Linked DNA regions of Homo sapiens: all the other regions are linked to region 1. Evidence: fine-mapped QTL for protein levels in blood plasma. A gene starts in region 1. Each other region holds a variant in brackets. All regions are shown on one strand. Distances are from middle to middle.

The links. PIP is the posterior inclusion probability: the model's chance that the variant is causal. Protein levels are from antibody-based Olink assays in UK Biobank. Linkage for the fine-mapping came from a reference panel and not from the study's own genotypes, which makes the PIPs less certain.
Region 2: its variant is fine-mapped to the plasma level of the RGMA protein (UK Biobank, PIP above 0.99).
Region 3: its variant is fine-mapped to the plasma level of the RGMA protein (UK Biobank, PIP above 0.99).
Region 4: its variant is fine-mapped to the plasma level of the RGMA protein (UK Biobank, PIP above 0.99). The variant lies in the coding sequence of RGMA. If it changes the protein, the assay may bind it differently, which can mimic a change of level.

What each region holds. Positions count from the first base shown.
Region 1 is chr15:93,086,722-93,091,867 of GRCh38, forward strand. RGMA (repulsive guidance molecule BMP co-receptor a) reads right to left here and starts at 2,490. Exons shown (of 4, transcript NM_020211.3): 1 at 2,198-2,490. The coding sequence starts at 2,211. LOC101927025 (a long non-coding RNA gene) reads left to right here and starts at 2,493. Exons shown (of 5, transcript XR_007064769.1): 1 at 2,493-2,556.
Region 2 is chr15:93,215,271-93,220,416 of GRCh38, forward strand. It overlaps LOC105370982 (a long non-coding RNA gene), which reads left to right. Exons shown (of 7, transcript XR_007064770.1): 2 at 4,384-4,514. Among named protein-coding and RNA genes, the nearest start is that of RGMA, 130 kb to the left of the region's middle. The variant T/C (reference allele first, on the strand shown) is at 2,281.
Region 3 is chr15:93,067,898-93,073,043 of GRCh38, forward strand. RGMA (repulsive guidance molecule BMP co-receptor a) reads right to left here. Exons shown (of 4, transcript NM_020211.3): 2 at 5,019-5,134. Among named protein-coding and RNA genes, the nearest start is that of RGMA, 19 kb to the right of the region's middle. The variant C/A (reference allele first, on the strand shown) is at 4,888.
Region 4 is chr15:93,042,045-93,047,190 of GRCh38, forward strand. RGMA (repulsive guidance molecule BMP co-receptor a) reads right to left here. Exons shown (of 4, transcript NM_020211.3): 4 at 1-3,661. The coding sequence ends at 2,954. Among named protein-coding and RNA genes, the nearest start is that of RGMA, 45 kb to the right of the region's middle. The variant G/C (reference allele first, on the strand shown) is at 2,990.

The DNA of each region.
Region 1 (5,146 bases):
GCAACTGCTCGTCTAAGAATTCTTGGGCTTGGCTTCTCACAGGGCTGCTGAAGAGCAAGGGATTGTATTAAAAAGGAGATTCTTGTGCCTTTATTGTCTATTATTACATACACTGGGAAGCAGCAAGTTATTCCTTGGAGGAGGTTTGTAAAAAGAGAAAGCAGGCAGAGGTTTCTTAGCAAAAGTCAAAGGTGCCCTCCTTGAATGAGATGCCAAGCTATTCTAAGACCTCGTCTGTCACAAGTCTCATGATGACATAAATACCTACCAATGGAGACACAGTTTGAGACAGCATGACGGGGCAGACCAGCCACCCACCATTTCATATGTCTATTGGAGAATGTAAGCAACTGTCTGACACCTGGGAGGGAAATAATGGAAGCAGGGTACTTGAAAAAAGGAGGCTAAGACCTCTTTCACTACCAGCACAGCCCAGAGAGTCTCAAGGGGGTACTACAGTAGACCACTACACTGCTCTACAAGGGGCCAGGGTGCCCTTCAGAACCGGGTGAGCCCAGCTCACTGCTAATATATTATCTGGCCTGGAAGGTGGCAGCAAAAACCAGCCACAGAGAACGTGGAGCCCGCCTGGATGTGTGGGTGCCCCACCCAGAGCCTTTGTCTGCAGAACTTGCCATCCAGCCACGTCTGCCCCAGTTGTTAATTGGAGATCATGTCCCTGTAAAGGGGGCTTGCTTGTCACTTGCTGTGGTAACAGCAAGAAACCCCTTCTTTGTATGTGCAAAAAAAAAAAAAAAAAAAACCACAAAACCCAGTTTGGGTACACTATTCTGTTCCTGCACAAATGGGCAGGAGGCCCTCTCCCAGTTCTCCTCCTGTTGCCCTTCGGAGCACAGTTACTCTCTTTTCTAGGGGTCATGGCTCAAAATCCACCCAAGAAATCACCCGTTTGTGATGCACAGGAGAAGACAGAGGTTTGTGCATTGGTTTTCAAGATCTCTGCACCAGATACCTGCGGAAGGGGCATCTTCTTACAGCAGTTAACATTTTATATTACGTTTTTGCTGGAAGAGTCTAAAACCAAACAGAGAAGGTGATGGAGCTCCTTTAGGTGACAGCATGCCACTCAACACGACCCGCAATTTCGTCCCCTGAGCTCAATGTGCTGAGCATGGGAGGTCGGGGTTCTCCCTGGTACCGTCGATACTCAGAGAGCTTCTGTAGCCTCCTTCCTGGAGGCGAGGGCTGGTTCCCGCCTCTCCACCTTGTGCGGGAGACTACTTTGAGAACACCCAACAACTTCGCAGCCTAAGAGGAATGCACAGCTCACCACTTCCGCTAGATGGCGCTACTTCCCCTACTCCGCCCGCGAGACACCCAATTTATAAAATAAATACAACCCAACACCTCCCAAAACCACACCACATAATAGCAGCTCACAGGCTCCCATTAGAAATCTCAATTTGGGAGAACTGATTCTACCTCCGAGCAAGTCTAATACAATTACATTAATAAGACGCAATCCCGAATTGCACCCGAGCGTCCCCCACACCCGCCCTCCCATTGAATACACCTGTCCCCCATGCCCGGGCTTGTACCCTGGGTTGAGCTGCGGCGCGAGCCGGCGCTGAATCGTCGCCGTGCCCTCCCGTCCACTTAGGAAAGCCGGGGCGGCTTGGCAATGGGCATCCTCGGCCCTCAATCCAAGGTCCGCACCTTCCCGTACGCCGGCGCGCCGAGGCAAAGGGCCGCCGGGACGCGAGCCCACGCGGTGCACTGCGCCGACATCCCCGAGGGCAGGAGATGGCCAGGCAGCTCCGCAGCCGGGCGTCGAGCGGGAGGCGGGGGCCCGGGCGGCGCGGGCCAATGGGGGTTCACGGCGGGACAGTCGGGTGGCCGGCTCCGTCCGGGGCTCCGCGAGCCGGGCTGAGGGAAGGAGCTCCCAGCCCGCACACGGTGTAAGGGACGTGTGCCGGGTCTGCCCAACCACGCGCGCTGGCGGCTGCCCGGGGGAGAGTATTTTAGGAAAAAAGAACAAACACCAAACCACAAAAACTTTCCTGCTGCCAACAGCTAAAGCGATAGAGGCGCAGCAAAGCTCCAAATGTGGGCAAGATGGGAGCAAGATGAGACGCGGGGCTAAGGAAGACCAAAGCAGCGCCGTGGCCCCGGCATGTGTCGGCGGCGCCTCGGAGATGTCAGAGCCGGGTCTGCCCGGCTCCCGACCCGCGCTTACCTTGGCGGCTGCATGAGCCCCTGCGGCCCGCGGGGGGTGGCGCTGGCGGGGCTGCGGGAGAAGAGGGGGTGTCGGGGCGCCGCTCGTCTGCCCCGGGGCAAGGTGGGAGGGGCTCCGCTGGCGCTGGTCCCCGCCGCCCCGGCCGGCTCAGCAGCGGCCCGGGGAGCGCCTCCTGCTCCCGGGCTGCATGCCTGCGAGCGCCTGGCGGAGCCGGCCCGGGAGCGAACGGCCAGTGCTTCCCCGGCCCAGCGGCTCGGGCGGCGCAGCCAGCGCTCGGGAGACAACTGCAGAGTGGGGCGGCCGGGACCAGCCCCCTCCCTCGCCCGGCCCCCGCCCGCCGCCGAGCGCGGCGTCGCGAGGTTCGTTTGCGCGCCGAGGGGAGGGGGCGGGCCGGGCGCCCGGGCCGCGGGCGGGGGGCGCGCGCGGGCGGGGCCGGCAGGGAGGGGCGGGGAGGAGCGGGGTGCGGGCTCGCGTTGCCCCGCCCCGCCGCGGCCCCACCCTCCCGCATCAGCACCGGCTGGGTGGGTGCGGAGTGCGCCAGCGGCCAAGTCAAGACTCCTTGAATGCTCAGGTTAGGGGGCGCGGGCGGCAAGTGCGGCGACTCCCCGGGGCGCCTCCAACTTTCCGAATCGCCCGCAGGGTTGCGGTGGAGCGCACGGTGTCCTTCAGTTAGGCGGTGGTCGAGGGGAGTTCCTCTGAGATTTCTGGAGAAGGCGGTTACATCCAAGACAAATGCTGTTGCGCTCTGCGGAGACGCACCTTTGTTCTATAGAGATTTTGTTGTTGTTTAAGAATCTTCCTGAAAAAACTAATACATATGTATTACATGCTAACACACGCATACATTCTTGCGTAGAATTGTACATAACTCAGGAGTGTCTAGAGTGAAAAGACCGTATCGCACTCCCTCCCACGGCCGCGGCTCTCCCACGGCCGCGGCTCCCCCGCGGTAACCTTCGGTCAGGGTGTGCTCTGCCGCGGTTCTTTCCAGTCTCTGCGCTTTTACATGCACACGCACAGATTGCGAGTGGAATCTCCTGGGCTTTTCAAAAGAATGTTTTCAACATTAAGCGCATGCACACAGTGGCTTGAACACGGCCACGTCGGGAGCAGTAAATCCCCAGAGGCTCCGGGAGCCCAGGGAAGGACCCTTGCTGTGAAACAGCAAAGAGCCACCCAATCGCCATGTGTGGATCTGAAACCCCAGCTGGAGCGTGAAGTCGGTCTGGTTACACAGCTCAGGCCCAAATTAGCACTGCACGGTTAGAGAGATTTGCCAGTACATTCTAGACAGGGTTATGACCTTCCCCTTCTTACAGAACAAACTGTCTTGAATTTTGATATGATGAGAACTCTGGATTTGCAAAATGAAAAGGTATCGTCCGCATTAAAACACGATCGTTATTTATGCGTGTGGTCTTCAGAGATGTGGTTTTAACTCAATATTCTCCGTTTTATTTGTCAAGTGTATTTGTATAATCTATAGCTGGGATATAAATAAAATTAAGTGGTTTAGCAGGAAGGGATTGGGGATGGGTTTCTAGAATTAGCTCTGACCTTCGGCAAGTCATCTAGCTCTGCTGGGCCTCAGTTTCCTCATCTATGAATAGTAGGGTGTGTGTGTGTGTGTGTGTGTGTGTGTGTGTGTGTGTGTGTGTGGTCTTCCTGCCCTGACATTCTGTGCCCTGACATTCAGTGAATAACCAATTTCTTCATCTTTCATAGCTCAGCTCCAACATCTTCCCCACCCTCTAGGGAGTCCTCACATCCGTGCCTTTCCTTCCTAACACTGAGCTCACTCGGTAATTAGGCGCTCATTAGAGTGACCTTTCCCTACATGTTGGCCTCTCCCACCGTACCATAAGCATCATGAGGGCAGGAACCAGGACTCCTTGGAGTCATCATTGCATTCCTAGCACTTAATATGGTGCCTGGCACACTACAAGAATCTCTGAATGACTGTCACGCAGATAGTAGATTTCTTACTGTTCTTCCAAATTGCCTGGCATTTTTAAAAGGTCTGTAAGTGGAAACGTGTCTTTTTAAAATGAGGCCTTTGGAAAGTAACCAGCAGGGTTTTCCCATGGTGGGGGACAAACAATCCACTGTCTAGATAAGGACAGACAATTCTCAGCTCAATCAAGGGCCGTGGAGGTAGCCGGTAACTATTTACCTTGATGAGTGCAGGCACCCGTGGAGAAGACAACGAATATTAATGCTACTCGTTAAGTACTTGGTTAAGTTAGAACCCTGCATAGGCAGTTGGAATACACAGAGTGCTCAGATTTAAATGAAGCCGTGAAGTGTGTTTAGGGTGCAAATTAAGAAATGGACATGCTTTCAACCAACAATCTAGAAACATTCCTAATATAAAGCTCCAGGGTATCCTTGGCTTTCTTTACTGCAAAGGGCCTGGATTCCTTAATATGAACAGGAAACAGGCTAACCTAGGTACAAGAGTTTAAAAAAAAGAAAAAAGGCCATTAAGAAACAAGGGGCGGGGTAAGTGAAAGTCTAAGTCAGTACAAGACTAATATCTATATTAGTTTCTTTTTTGTCTGATATGTAGATTTGCCGAGGGAGAGGTTAAAATCCGGCGTCACATTTATAGAGGAAAACTGGGGTTTCCACCCCTTCTTGGCCACTCTTCCTTTTCTTCCCTTTTGTGAGAGGGGATACATGCTTGCTGGGCGGTCGCCAGATCCACCTGGATGCCACCTGGTGTGAGAAAGCTCTCCTGGGATGCACCACACCCGGCGCAGGGAAAGCCTGTGCTACTGGGGTGCGGAGCAATTTGCTGTCTCTCTGTTGCCAGTGAGGGGTGGTGCCTACTGGGCAAGAGTGCGTCCTCGGAGCGTGGATTCATAGTGAAATTGACCAAGCAATGTGACAGTGAATTGGCCTTACTTTACTCAGGGTTGCCACTGGGGGCCATCCCTTTGGATTGGG
Region 2 (5,146 bases), 130 kb after region 1:
TGGCCTCAAGCAATGGTTCTGATAATTTTTTTACTTACAGGTTCTGTTTTATGGTTATCTTGTTGCCACTTCAAATTCTATGTGAAAGGGCTTGGGAACAAATTAATAAACAAATACCCTAAACAAATACCAAAATGGTGACAGTAGTTTCTTAGTCTGATGACTGGGACTTTTCATGTTGCTGGTTTCTTTGTTCCTTCTCTCCGTAGGCTTTCTGCTCTTACCTCATCTCTTGCTTTCTTTTCTCTAACTCTTACAGAGAAAGACATTTAAAATCAGACTCAAGCATCTTGGAGAAGGGGTTTTGCTTATACTTGGCAGGTTGTTGCTTCCTATGTCTAAGACAGGAGAAAAGGAGGCTTTGAAATGTCATGAAATGTCCGGGAAGGTTTCCTGGATGTCAAGTAGCTGTTTCCTCAAATCACGGGAATGACTGAAGTGTAGAAGGATCAGAAACATACAGATTCAATTTCACTGAAAACCCACACGTGGCTTTAAAGTGTTGGGAAAATATGCGTGGGCCCAAGTCTGATTTGGGTTTAAAAAAGAATGCAGACATGATGGGTTGTGATGGAAAAGTCTAGAGGCCACTGGGTGTATCTGCTCATTCTTCACCAGGACTCTGGGGTCATACATTCCTCCTGGGATGGCTAAAGCCAGGACCTGTTAAAACGGTATGTCCAGAAACACAGAGCACGAAGACTTAGAGAAATGAGTGTGGAGGAGGGAGTGCCTATCTCTGGGAACATTCTGGTCACATTGGCAGAGCCAGAAGAATACTTCTAAGACAGAAGTATTCTTCTAAGTGTCCAGCCTGGTGCTAGTAAATAGTTGAAGAACAGGGCCAGTTCCATTGTTGTTATTCTCAGATCTGAGAGAATTCTTCTGGTGGTCCAATAATCTGTGTGGAGCTCGCGCCAGGAGCCTGGAAGCTGGCCTCCGTACCCCGACCCCTGCCCCGCCTTAACTCTCCCATTTCATCAGCTATTGTCCAGTTGATTCTACTTAGCAAAGGTCCCTGGAATTATCCAAATGCCTGTCACCCCCACTGCTACTCCTCTAGTTCAGGCCACCATTACCTCTCACTAGATTGGTCCCCTCACCCTCCACTAACCTTGCTTGCATTCAATCTAATTTCCACAAGATACATGGCGTAAGCTTTCTAGAGCCCACCTCAGCTCCTAGCATTACCCCCTTGAACTTCTTCAGGGGTTGCTTACATGCTTGCAAATTCCCAACATGATATGTGTGGACCTTCACAATTTGGCTTCTTCCTGATTTTATATGTCTTGACAACCTGTTTCCCCCTCATTCCCCTCACCCTCTCAGACCCCTAATATGCTCCAACCATTTTGAACTACTTTCAGCCAATTCCTGGCTGGGGGATCTTGGGGAAGTCAATCAACCTTCCTGTACCTCAGTTTCTTCATTTGTAAAGTGAAGATGGTAGCAGCACCTGCATGGGTTGTTGAGGATAAAATAGGTTCATATATGCCCAGTGCTTTTAGCAGAGCCTGGCACTGATTCTGCCACCTCCTCGTGCCTCTTTGTATGCAGAAACTTTGTACCTGGAACTTCCTCCCACTTCCTTCGGCTTGCTTTTGTAGCGTGGTGGTCACCACTTCTGTAGAATGAGCCGCAGGCCATGTTGCATCGTAATCGTCTGCATTTCATTCTGTCCACGCACCACACTAGAAGCTCTTTGAGAGTAGGGACTGTTTCTCCGTTGCCTTGACACACCATAGTCAATCAATATTTGCTGATATAAAGAAAAAAAAACAGCTCACAAGGAGAGACTACGCCAAATTCCAGGTAGTTGCCTGTAGACCCTGGGAAGGTAATATTTCTTTTCATAAATGCACAAATGGTTATTCTTTTTTAATGAACCAAAAGAAAAACAAATTCAGCAGGTTGGCATTTGGCAAAAGCCATTTCAACATCTAAAGATATTTCTTGTTCTGGAACTCAGAACGACTTTGCACTTCCAAATGTCATTTGCAAGGTTGCTGGACTGATTAGGTTTGCTCTTAGCCCCTTCCCTGCCCATTTCCTGCCTTGGCTGGTGTTCCTTGAATGGTTCGGCATTCCAACTTGGCCTGAGATGCCAAGGCTCCCTGCTCTGCATTTAGCCTGCATTTCTCCTGGGTCCTGAGGGAAGCTGGGAAATGCACTCTGCATTTTTATCTCATGTGGTTGGGACACAGGGTGGTGTCCCAGGGAGGAGGCACTTTCTTTTGCCCTGGGCCAGCTGTGGTGGCATTTGACATGGCTGAAGGATTC[T/C]GTCACTCCAGTTGGCCATGGCTCATTAAAATGCCTGGGCTTGCTGGGAATTGTATTTCCAAATCTGTGCTTCTCATAGGGCCATGGAAACAGATTAGGGTGTGTCTTTCCCAATGTGTCTGATTTGTCCATGGTCACATGAGGTGGAGAGGGGAGGAGGGTGTGTAGTGCAGAGAGGTGCTTTGCAAAAGTTTGCACCTGCTGTTTCCTTCCGAAAGTGTGCAATCTCTTACCCCTCCCCATCCTGTAGAAATTTCTTAAAAAAAAGCACCACATTTTGTCATTTTTGCATGTTATATGTTATAAAAATTGACTGTAAGATTTTTTAAACACCCAGCTAATAAGTGATGCATACTGTTTCATTTACTTTAATTATGTAAAAGAAGCATGATTTGTCAACAGGTACATCACAAATTATATAATTCATCAGACTTGGTTGAGAAAAACAATCTTAAAACATAGATGGAAGTTTAATTATGTATTAGCATTGAAAATAGGCAAAACCTGTCCTTGTGACCTAATATTGGGAATTCTTGCATTTTGCACTTAAAAATCAACTGGATAATTGGTGTGAATTTTTTTTTCTTTTTTTTCTTTTTGAGACAGAGTCTTGCTGTGTCGCCGGGCTGGAATGCAGTGGCGCGATCTCGGCTCACTGCAACCTCTGCTTCCCAGGTTCAAATGCTTCTCCTTCCTCAGCCTCCTGAGTAGCTGGGACTACAGGCACGCGTCACCACGCCCATCTAATTTTTGTATTTTTAGTAGAGACAGGGTTTCACCATGTTGGCCAGAGTGGTCTCAATTTCTTGACTTTATGATCCGCTCACCTCAGCCTCCCAAAGTGCTGGGATTACAGGCATGAGCCACTGCGCCCGGCCAGTTGGTATGAATTTTTAGTTACATTCTTAAGTATTGAAGAAAAAGAGCGATTTAGGCTACTTGCCATCATTTCTTCAAAGTATTCCATTGCAAGAGTAGATAGCTTAATTTCTAGTAAAGAAAGAAACAAATTGGATATAATTCTCATAGTTTTCTCACATTAATGTGGCTTCTGAAATGTTGGAGACAGCTTGACGGGCCACTAAGGTAAATGAAATTCAGAGATTAAGCTCAAAAAATCTAGGAATAACATTCTCCAAGGTAGTTTTCAACATTTCTGCCAAGAAATAGGAAATTAGACTGTGAACTGGAAGAAGATCTTTGGAAAAATAATTTGACGCTATAGTCAAAAGTCAAAATAGCTTAGCTAAAGTCAAAATTAGGCATAACCTTTGATCCAGCAGTGTTCTTCTAGCCATATGTATTGGAGAATCTTTTGATCATATGCACCAATACAGGAATGTTCATTGCAGCACTGTTTATAATAGCAAAAAATTGGAAACAGCACGGATGTTTATCAGTGGTAGAATACATTCTGGTATAGTCACACAATGAAATATTATACAGTAGTGAACAGGAAAAATTACAGCTTCATGCATTAACATGAATGAATCTCAGAAAAATAATGTTGAATGAAAAACAAAAGTCATACAGGAATAGATAAGGATGGCTTCATTTATATAAAGATTAAAAACAATCAAAACTAAACCATATATTGCTTAGGGGTATGTGGGTAGTGCATATGTGCATAGATTCCTGTCAGCACTGCCATGTGCTCTGCAGGCCACGTGAGTGAAGTGAAGAGGGGTAGATTAGGCCTGCATTCTGCCATGTCTCTGTTTCTGACTTTTACTTTCAGAAATGACTTGCCTGGGCCCTTCTGTTCCTCCTGCCTCTCAAGCCAACCCCTGCACTATAGTACAGGCCCAAACAAAGCTGAGAGAGAGAGTGTGTGTGCATGAGAGAGAGATTGAGTGTGTATGTGAAGGGTGACAGGTTTGAGAATGAAAGCAAGATCCAAGCCCACTGGCCCAAGCACACTGGATCCAAGCGCAGTCTTGGCCCTACCTATGTGACTTAAAAAAAAATCGCAAATGTGGACTGGACAACATTTATTGAGCAATTACTATGCTCCTCTCACTGTGCAATGCAATTTCTTCTGTTTCATCTCATTTCATTTTCACTGCCACCCTGCAAGTTCGTGTTGTTGCTGTCATTTTACAGACAAGGAATGCAAAGCTCACGGATGCCGAGGAATTTATCCAAGATCACTGTGATGGGATGGGAACTTTGGTTTTCAGCCTTTAAATACATTGGTGCAGAAGTCCAAGAAAGATGCTTGGAAAGACCTAGTGGTACGTAGCTTCATGTAAACCATCACCCCTTTGAATAAAAGCTAGGCAATCCCTCTGCCGCATTTTAAGTTATTATTATTATTATTATTATTTTTGCTCCAGGGTGGAGGGCAAATAAAATGTTAGCAGCCTTCTCTTGCCTTGGCTTTGGAGGCCGACTCCTCTGAGCAGGTGGCTGGTGCTTGCAGATGTGGTTGAACCTGCACATCTGGCACACATTAATCCATGGACAGGACATGCTATTACAGTCCTAATGAAATTTGGGTCTGCTGCATTTCCATAAGCCACCCAAGGAAGCAGGATTCCTGGCATTTTGTCAGAAGTAAAAGCCTGGAAGATATAGAACAATTTCTATCATCATGATGGATGAGGTTATTTTCATCTTGTACAAAGTTACTCCCAATTGAAAGGTTGGAGACAAGATAGCTCTTGATTAAATGAAAATTGTGCCTGACTAGGACATAAATTATGTAGTGGAGCAGCAAAAAAATCTGAATGTGCTTTTATGAGCTCAGTCCCCATCATGGTTTAACTCAGAGAAAAAACCTTTTCCTCCTTTGCAAGGATGTCCACGGCTACATGGTTGAAGCATTGCCCTGAAGGAATACTGTGTGGTTGGAGTTTTGGTAATG
Region 3 (5,146 bases), 19 kb before region 1:
TGTTGCAATGGCAGCAAGGTGACAGAGGGAACAGGCAGGACCAGGAGGAGGAAGGACCCATGGCCCCAGGTGATTAGACCACATGGAGGGGCCCACTTCACACCCAGGACTTCACAGATCTGGACAGGGGAGTCCCTAACAGATACAGGCTAGGCATGAGTCCAGGGGACAGGAGAGGATAAAACTAGGGTTTTAATCTAACTGTCCTGGTGTGCCAGGGACTGAGGATAGTTCTCAGGACATATAGATTCCAGTTTTAAAACTAGGAAAGTCCTGGGCAAACTGGGATAAGTTGGCTACCTTCAAAGAAATACTGTCTTCAATTTAAGGCTGGTTGAATTTTTGCCAAGCAGCAAAACAGCATGGCCCCTAACTGCTACTCAACCAAAACCTAAAGTTGGGGTTCTCTGCCCAGTTCTAGGCCTCGCACATTTCACCAAAGACAAGATCTCTAGCAGGAACGACACTCTCCCCAACATGTAAACTGGTCCCCACCTTCAGCCTCTTATCTTCCAAGGCCTCCTCTTCTCCATCTCATAGAGTGGCCTTATCTGTGCCCACAGATCACCTCTCCCCAGCTCCCATCCTCTGAGCGCTGGAGTGACTACTAGCCATTTCTCCAACCTTGCAAAGACCTTTCCCTTCCTCAGATCACAAGACTAGAGATCCTTTCCCTTTCTCCTCAATACACCCTCAGGGCCTAGTGGCTGGCCATCTGTAGAGTTTTATGTGCGTGCTCTCCCTGGGAGCCAATGCGCTGCTCTGCAGGTGCCGTCACACACTGGTTGCTAGCTGGCTGGTTCTTGCCACTGAACATCAACTCCGAATTCACCTTTTAAAGCCTAACCCCAAAGTGATGGTATGAGAAGTAGGAGGGATCTGGGAAGTGATTAGGTCATCAGGGTGGAGGTTTCAAGAATGGGATTAGTGCTCTTATAAAAGGGACCCCACAGAGTGCCCTCACTTCTGCCCTGTGAGGACAGAGCTGTAAGGCACCATCTACAAACCAGACATCAAATCTGCCAGCACCTATCACTCTTGGACTTTTCAGCCTTCAGAACTGTGAGCAATAAATGTCTGTCATGTATAAGCCACCCACTTATGGTATTTTGTTACAGCAGCCCAAACAAACTAAGACACTCTCCCCTTGGGACACAAAGTCCTACTGGGAGAGCAATAGTGTGGTAAGCAGGCTGATCTGCTGATGCATTTTTTTTTTGTTTGTTTTTTGAGACGGAGTTTCATTCTGTCACCCAGGCTGGAGTACAGTGGTGCGATCTCAGCTCACTGCAACCTCCACCTCCCGGGTTCGGGCGATTCTCCTGCCTCAGCCTCCCGAGTAGCTGGGATTATAGGCTCATGCCACCACGCCCAGCTAATTTTTGTATTTTCAGTAGAAACGGGGTTTCGCTATGTTGGTCAGGCTGGTCTCGAACTCCTGGCCTCAAGCAATCCACCCACCTCGGCCTCTCAAAGTGCTGGGGTTACGGGCGTGAGCCACCGCGCCTGGCCGATGCATTTTTGAATAGCAGCTCTGATAGAAACAGTCTCATTTCTATAGCGACACAGATGTACCTGGACACTGCAGAGGGCCTTGGTCTCCCGAAACCTTAGTTACCCACTGAGGACTAACATTTCTAAAACAGCTGCAGTTCAAAGTATAAGGGGAAGAAAGAAGGAACAAAGAAAGTCTGGAGTGCAATAGTTCTTAGAACAGCGATCCTCAAACTTGAGCATGCATCAGAGCTCTCTGGAGGGCCTGCTCTAGAACACAGACTGCAGGGCCCCAGCTCCAGAGTAACTGCTTCTATAGGTCTGTGGTGGGCCTAGAACTTGCATTTCTAACCAGTTCCCAAGGAAGGCTAATGCTGCTGGTCCAGGGACCACACTTGGAGAACCACTGTGCTGAAGTACAGGACCCACACATAGTGAACAGGAAGCCTGGTGACATGTCCGAAACATATGCCTGGATGGATTTCTCTTGGAACTCTTTTCGAAAAAGTCACAATGGCTTCAAAGTTTAAAAAGCCATCTATTAGCTGTGATTTGAGTAGGATGCCATTTGTGGAATGCTCTTTTAAGAGTCCTTTCTGGCCTCCCTTCCTAGGTAGACGTGGACACTGTCTGCCTGTGCTGTCCCCAAAGAATCATCTAAACAGACACCCTTCCAGACCGCTTGACAGTGCAGGGGCCCTTTCTCATCACCAGGCTGTGGTCTGCCTGAGGGGCTTGGTTAGAAGGCTCCAAAAGTTGTCACTGAGTCAGGAACCCAGTAGGTTGGCCATCCACATGGAGTAAGTAAATGCAAACACTCGAAACACACAAACGCTCTCAGTGTAGCTGAGGTGAAGGCATCTTTCTCCACATAACTATGTTCGATTTAATTTGCACTCCTATAGGCTTACTCCTGGCAGCCATTCAAGCTGACTAGCACAGAACAAACCGAGGCTTTCACGCAGTTGCTCGGCCAGTTTCCACCTGTCTTCAACGGGAGAGGCCAAGGCACACAGGGGCCCCCAGTGTGTCTGGGTGCCTTCCACTTGCTGGGGCTTTATTTCTCGATCTCCCGCCTTGCTCTCCATCAGACCTGCAAGTTTTCTAACTTCATTCCTAAGCGGCCCCTCTCCTGGTCAATGTGTCAAAGAATGGGACAGTCTCTCTCTGTTGTGGAAATTTCCCATTTCATCCCTTACTTAAGAAACTGTCTTTTGACCCACATTTCTAGAGCACACAAGTTTTGGAGCCCCCAGTATATTTAGTTTTGGGGTACTGGAAGCTCAGTTTTCAGTCAGGTGGGCAATTTTGACTAAACGCAGCTGTCAAGCCCTCAAATGAGAAGAAACATTAGCCAGCTGGCGTGACAGGAGAGCAGCTATCAGTTCCATCGGCCAGGTTTTAGTTACCGGCCTTGACGCCAAAAAGAAATGGGTTTCTTGGAAACAAAAGTGATGGAATTTGGGCTGTGACTTATATAACCTACCAGTGTTCCTCAGCCTATGGCGGGATGCTTTAAAATAAAAGTTTTTAGGATGGAGAAATAAATCGAGAAACAACAAAACCACCACCACTCAGGCCATGCAGCCTCCTACCTCTGGAAACTTCTGCCAGGCCTTCCTTTCCTCTCCAGCCCCAAAAGGTAACAAGTGCTGCAGCTTTAAGAGCGGGAAGGTGTTGTTTTAAGGGCCTCTAAGCCCCTCTTCTCAATTTCAGCTTTGAGCTGAGATCACATCCCCCACGGCAGCCAAGGGACAAAAGCCATTTATCAACCCATCTGATAAAACTTCCAATGGGCTTGATCTTTATCTAGACCAAACCAAGAACACAAATTGCAAACTCCTGCTTTTCCAAAACGTTGACTTCTTCTTAAATAGGGTGATTTTTATTTTAATTTTGAATTCTTGGGAGGAAACCAAATTGGGCTGTTCAACCAGACTCTTAAGTAGGTGGAGAAACTGCCTTTTAAATACACTGGGGGTGAGGAGAGGGCACCCTGCTGTTTGATCCCCTGCGGAGGTTTTGACATTCCAAGCTGAGTACTTTTTGGGGATACCAAGATCCCTCACCCGACATCTTGTCCTTGGCCAGGCCTCCCTATGGAACCTAGGTCTGGAGAGCAGGTTGCGGCTCTCTGCGACCCTTCTGGGGTGCGCAGTGGTTGAGTAAGCCGGACGCACAAGTCTGAGCTGGCGCTGGGGGCCAGGAGCAGGGCTGGGACTAGGGGGTAAACTGATCCCTCGCTCCCTACTGTTCACTGTCTGCGTGGTCCGCCCATTGGGAGCCCCAACTCACAGCCAGGCCGAGCCAGACCTGCCCAGTTTTGCCAGTTCCTTGAAACCCAGTTGGCGGAAGAGCAAATCAAAATAACCCAATCCGAGTCTAAACTCAAGTCCTTTCTTGCAAAGCTCAGTAGTGCGCGGGGGCTGCGGCTCTACGCCTGGCTGTGGTGCGAAACAAGATGAAATTTTTTCAAAAAGACACCTCTGAACCCCGCAAACACAATGGAAACGGCTGGGAGATCCCGCCTTGCGCCGGGGGGGCCATTTGGCCCGTGACATTGTGTTTATTTGTATTTTTAGCAAGAAAAAAAATGGGTATAAAGGGCTTAACTGGCGTTTTCTGGCTGTGAGCAGCATATGGCAAAAATGAAATAAAGTTTTATGAAACATCATAAAGAAAACAGGCCGGGGATTTAAGTTGCATGCCTCCCCCCTCCCCCCGAAAGGAAAAAAAGTAAAGAAACTGGAGCGTTTGGGAAGGAACAAATGCTTCTCTGTGGAGTTGGTCTCCCTTCCCCCAACAAAAACAAGAGGTCCGGGCTCGGAGGAATTTGAAAGCAGCGATCTGCCAAAAACATTGTGAAAAACTATGGGGGATTCATTGGAAACAGATGGGCTTTTTCAGCTTTAATTCTGAAATTCTCTCCTTTTCTGACACAATAAAAACAAACAGGGGGCGACGCAGAAAGTTATCAAACAGGAACACCAGCTCATTTGAGCCGAGTCCGTGGGTGTCCCCGCGTGGCCAAATGGGTGGAAACGAGACGAGGTCTCCGGGGAGGGGGCTGTCGGGAACTCGGCTGGGACCTCAGGGGCGACCCTGGCTCCACCCCTGGGCACCCGGCAGGTTTGCAAACTGCTGGGCGAGGAGCTGAAGAAAGTGTCCCCAGCACCGAGGGCGTGCCTCCCCTTCTCCCCCTCTTCCCGAGCCCCTAGGAGGCACGTTCCCAGCCACCCCCTTTCTCGGAAAAAGGGAAGGGAGTGAGGCACCCCGGCCCCTGCGCCCTCCCCACACGGCTCCATCTCACGGCAACTCGGGCAGGGTGCCCCTCTCCGGGTCCCCAAGGGCAGGCATCGCACCCACGACGGGGTGCGGGAGAAACAAAAGACC[C/A]GTGGAAATAGGAGGCGGGGTCCGGAGGAGGTCCGGAGAACTTGAGCCCGGACTCACTCGCGCACATCTGGCCCAGCATTGAGGGGCGGCCCAGGGACCCGGCCCCGCGCGCCCGGCCGGCAGTGCCTTACCTGCGGGGAAGCTGCAGAGAAGGAAGGCGAGGGTCGGCCAGAATCCCAGGGCTGAACGTCCTGCCCCTCTCCCCATACCCATCCATCCAGCTCGGCCTGTTACCACTAGCCTCTCCCTGGAAGAAGAG
Region 4 (5,146 bases), 45 kb before region 1:
CCCAGCTACTTGGGAGGCTGAGGCAGGAGAATTGCTTGAACCTGGGAGGCAGGGGCTGCAGTGAGCTGGGATGGTGCCACTGCACTCCAGCCTGGCGACAGAGCAAGACGCCAGACTCCATTTCAAAAATAAAATAAAGTTCTCCTTTTTCTTCAGCCTTCCTGGTCTGCCTGGGATTAATGAACTTGGCCACTCTTGGGACTCCTCCCCTTGCTAGCCTGCAGGTTCACCTCTCCCAAGAGTCCAGGGTCTGTATCGCCCCTTTCCTTCTCCCCTTAACTGATTTATCTTGCTTTGGGATAATACCACCCCCTCCCTCCCCACGACCAGACAAGCCATGTGTGCCCCGCCCTCTCCTAAGCAATTTACAGGAATGAACTCCTGACTCTCCAAACAACTGTATGGGACAGGCACCCCCCCATCTTCCAGAGAACAGCATGCAGGCTCAGAGAGGTGAAGTGACTTGCCCATGGTCACACTGCTGGGGAGGTGGAGAAGCCAGGATGTAGGCTGGCTTAACTGTGCTGCTATTCTGCCTCATGGCATTTAGTTTGAAGAGAAGGGGCTTCAGGACAATACTAACCTAGGTGCACAGGTTGTCCTTCCCGTTGCTAAGGAGCCCTAGGCAAGTCAGTTAATCTCAGAGTCTGTTTCATCGGCAAAATGGGCCTGAATTTCTTCCTGATTCACTGGGTAGTTTGTACAGATGAAATGTGATCACAGCTGCCAATAAACCTGGTCCCACAGTGACGTGGACAGCAGCCTCCTGCAGCACCACTGCTCCGCCCGGGCTATGAGAAGATGGGCACTGGCAGGGAGGGTGGCAGGCAGTCCCAACAGCTGGGGCTCCAGGCTGATAGCAGTGGCTGAGAGGGAGTCATCCCAGATCTCAGGCTATCCCACCCATCTCATCCCAGAGGGCACCATATGTCTCTCCACCACATAGTCACCTGTCTCCCTGACTGTGTTCCACTGTCACTAGAACAAGAGGATCTGGGCCTGCCAAGCTCCAAAGACAGCTCATCGTGAGGAGGAAAAGTGACTTTACAAAAGCAATGTGTGGTGGCTGTTAAACTGCTGCATCTTCTATCCGCCTTCACACCATTCTCACGCACATACACATGCGCACACACATGCCTACATGCACACACATAGGCATGGGCGCACACACAGGCATGCGCACACATGCGTACATGCACGCACACAGGCACGCACACACACAGGCATGCATACACACATGCGCGCACACACACATGCGCGCACACACACACACTTGCTGCAGGGGATCCCACCACCAAAGTCCATCCTCCACCCGCCTCAAGGGAGCCAAAGTCTGTTCAGAAAACAAACTCCAACACGTCTAAAAGAAAATAACAAAAAAACCAAACTTTACTTGCATTTAGCCATTAATAAATAATTTACAGTATGTACACGCGGTGACACTCCACACAGGTCGCAGACACGTGGACGCAGTGAGGGGTCCCCACTTCCAAGCAGAACGTGAGCAAACACAACCAAAATAAAGTGCTTCACTTTTTACTTCCAACATAGGGACCAACTAAAACCAGCAGGGAGAGGGAGGGGCCGGGCCCCGAGCGCCCTCCCACCCGCCCACACACGGTTCTGGCAGAGGGAGCAGGACCTCTTGGAGGGAGGGGGAGACACACGTTCTGCAGCCTCCTGGCCAGTGTATGAGAGGTCCCTGGGGAACAGCAGAGGGGCTGCCGATGGGTGGGTAGGGTGTGGAGCTGTAGGGCTGCTGGCAGGATCACCCTCCAGGGCCTGGCTGCACTTTTGGGAGTGAAGCCTGGCTTTGTGCTGTGGGCACAGCAGCACAGGTGGGACTGTTCTGGGCCCCTGGATGAGCACCCTGGGCTGAAATGAGGCGGGAGCCAGCGGCAAGTCTCTCCTGGCTGTGTGGCCACAGGGCTTAAGGGAAGAGATTAGAGGTTGAAGACCCTGCCAGGGATGCTCAGAGCTGAGAGTCCTAAGACCCTGCTCCTCTCCCCAGACTCCAGACGTGGATGGACCGGGCTGGGGGCTCTTGGGGTTGTGAGGAGGAAGCAGAGGATCAGGGCAGGCCAGCTGGCCCCATCCACTGGGTCTCCTGCCACACCCTGGGGCCCAGGCACCCCTGCCCAGGAGCTCTTGCATCTGCAGGAGAGAGAGGAACAGAAGTCAAGGATCTCTTCTCTGTTTAGACATTTAGAACCAAGCACTTCGACTTTCTAAGCACAGGGTGGAAGGGGCAGGGGCCCAGGCCAGAGACGGGCAGCTGAGCAGGTGCCTGAAAACCGGGACCTGCACTGGTACCCACAGCAGCCAGGTGAACATGGGCAGGGAGGCCACAGGCCAGAAGGCACCAGGCGGGCACGACCTACTGGCCAAAAGGTTCCAGCAGTCTGCTAAGGTGCCAAGCAGCGCCCCGGGGTTGCCCTGCCTGGGGCCAAGCCCCAAGGATGCCTCCCTGTGTGGCTGGGGTGTCCCCGCTGGCCTAGGGGGATCGAGTGTGCTCTCGTGTAAGAGTGTGTGCGTGCGTGTGGCGGGCACAGGGGGCCCCACGGATCGGCGAGCAGCAGTCGGCCGGGCCTTTCAGTGCATTGCGAGGGGGAAGGAGCTGACTCTGACGGTTCCCAGTGTGTCTCTGGTGGGGGTGGGGGGCTTCAGCCTGAGGGGATGTTTCACACATTCACACTGCAGGGGCGGGGCGAGGGGAGCTGCTCTCCCTCTCACACAGCTCTACTGTCAAACATCATGGCACCAGTCACCACAACCTTGTCACGTGCACTAGAAGGGGAGGGGTCCGTGCCTGAGCCCTTGGCAGCAGGCGGTCCCTGGCGTTCTGCGGGGCCATGGTGGACACGCCAGGAGATCTGCACCCCGTGGGCGGTCCCAGCCCACACATGGGGAAGCCGAGAGGACGGAGCCCGCGCCTCCCTCCACATCTACGCGTCTAGCAGAACACAGGGAGCAGGGCCAGGAGCGGGAC[G/C]AGGGCGCCCAGGAGGGGCCGGGGGGCCAGGGGCAGCCCCGCAGCCGCCCTGCCTGGCAGGTCCCGAGTCCTCTCATACAGGTGCAGTTTGTCTTTGTTGGAGTGGAGCATCTTGACATCCTCCAACGCGTAGTAGGCGGCCAGTGTGAAGTTCACGTCGCCCGTGGTGAGGAGGTCGAAGACGCAGGCCTGGTAGTACAGGTCCTCCACCGGCAGCTTCTCCTTGCACTTGGCCACGGCTGTCTCGTATGGGAAGGTCTCGGGGGCTGTGGGTGCAGGGCTGGCGGCTGCCAGCCTGCGGGCACCGGTGCCCTCAGCATTGGTGTGGAAGGCCTGGAAGTCGATCTGCTGGTTGAGGGGGCAGCCCCGCAGGCAGAGGTAGAGACCCTGGCTGTCCCAGTCCTCCACAGCATTGACCACTTCCTCTGGCATGCGGACGGCAAAGGTCAGGTAGCGGCCCACCTGGCGCACCACGATGGTGGTGCCGATGTACTTGGCCTGGATCTCCACGTGCTGGCCTGACACCTTCTCAGTGATCTTCAGGCTGTTGGCCCCGTGCTTGTCCCCACCGTTCTTAGAGCCATCCACGAAGGCGGCCGGGAGCTCGTCCATCTCAGCCTGGTACACCTTCTGGTCCACACACTCCTGGAAGTTCTTGAAGATGATGGTGAGCTGCCGGGGAAAGGGGCAGAGGAGAGTGGGTGAGGCACAGTGGGAGGAGGCACAGCCCCACACTTAAGATGCTCTAGACTGAGAGGAGGGCAGGAAGGATCCCCAGGGATGCCCCAGACACTCCCTTCTCCAGGTTGGACAGATCAGTTCCACCTGCGCAGCTGTGCACTTCACATTCTTTCAATGAAAACAACTTGCCCTTTTTACTTTAAAAAGTGACTTAGAAAAATGTTAGACCACTACCCTAAGTAGAAAACTAGCTCTTTTACTATATAGGGAAGTGAACCAGAAAAATAAAAGCATAGATAATTAAAAATAAAAGGTCAAAAGCCCAGTGTGGTAGGCTGAATAATGGCTCCCAAGAAGAACATGCCCTAATCCCTGTAACTTGGGAATGTTCCCTTAGATGGCAAAAGGGACCCTGCAGATATGATTAGGTTAAGAACACTGAGATGAAGAGATTATTCTGGATTACCTGGGTGGGCCCTAGATGGAATCACAAGTATCTTTATAAGAAGGAGGCAGAGGGAGATTTGACTAACTAGGACAGAGGAGAAGGTGATGTGCTCAACAAGGCAGAGATTCGAATGATGTGGCCACAAACCAAGGGATGCTGGCAACCACCAAAAGCTGGAAATGGCAATGAATGGATTCTCCCCTGGAGTCTCCAGGACCAGCCCTGCTGATACCTTGATTTTATCCCCACGAGACATATTCCCAACTTCCGGCCTCCACAATTATAAAACATTTCTGTTGGTTTGAACCACTCAGTTTATGCTAATTTGCTACAGTGGCGATAGGAAATGAATATGGTTTGCAAACATCATCTTGCATAATGACAGTGGTACTGGAGCACAATTCCTGACAAAGGACCCAAGCAAATGTCTGAACATTACAGCAGGTGGAATGGAGGGAAATGATGCTCAAAGAAAGAATGAATAGGGCAAAATCCATGCAAGCAGGCAGAGGCAAGCAGAAGCCACTGTCCCAAGGCTGCTGAAAGGGGTCCCCAAGCTGGGTCATGGAGGAGGGGAACAGGAAAGGAGCAAGGTGCTGGTCGGTAAAAGGGAGATGGAGGTTCCAGGCTGAACGGGCAGCCTTGGCCGGGGCTGGAGCAGGGAGGCTCCTTTCTGCTGGAGCCTGTGGCCAGGGGTGAGGGGCTGGACTGAGCTGCTGGAGCAGCAGCTGGCTGGGTGGCACTGTTCTCCTGAGAGCCAGACACAGAGGCATTGGCTGCATACAGCATGCTAAGCACTGCATGTATTACTTCCAGTCTCGTGTGACACTGCAAGGGTCGGTGACATTACTCTCAATTTTCCGGATGAGAAAATGTAGGCTCAGAGAGAGGCAGTAACTTGCCTAAGGTCACACAGCCAGCAAGAGGCAGAGCTGGGATTAGACTCTGCGTTTCCAGACTCTGGGCTCTCTTGGCCACAAGCCCATAGGGTGGGAGGCCTGAGAGGAGGAGGGCCGGTGGCCAGGGGA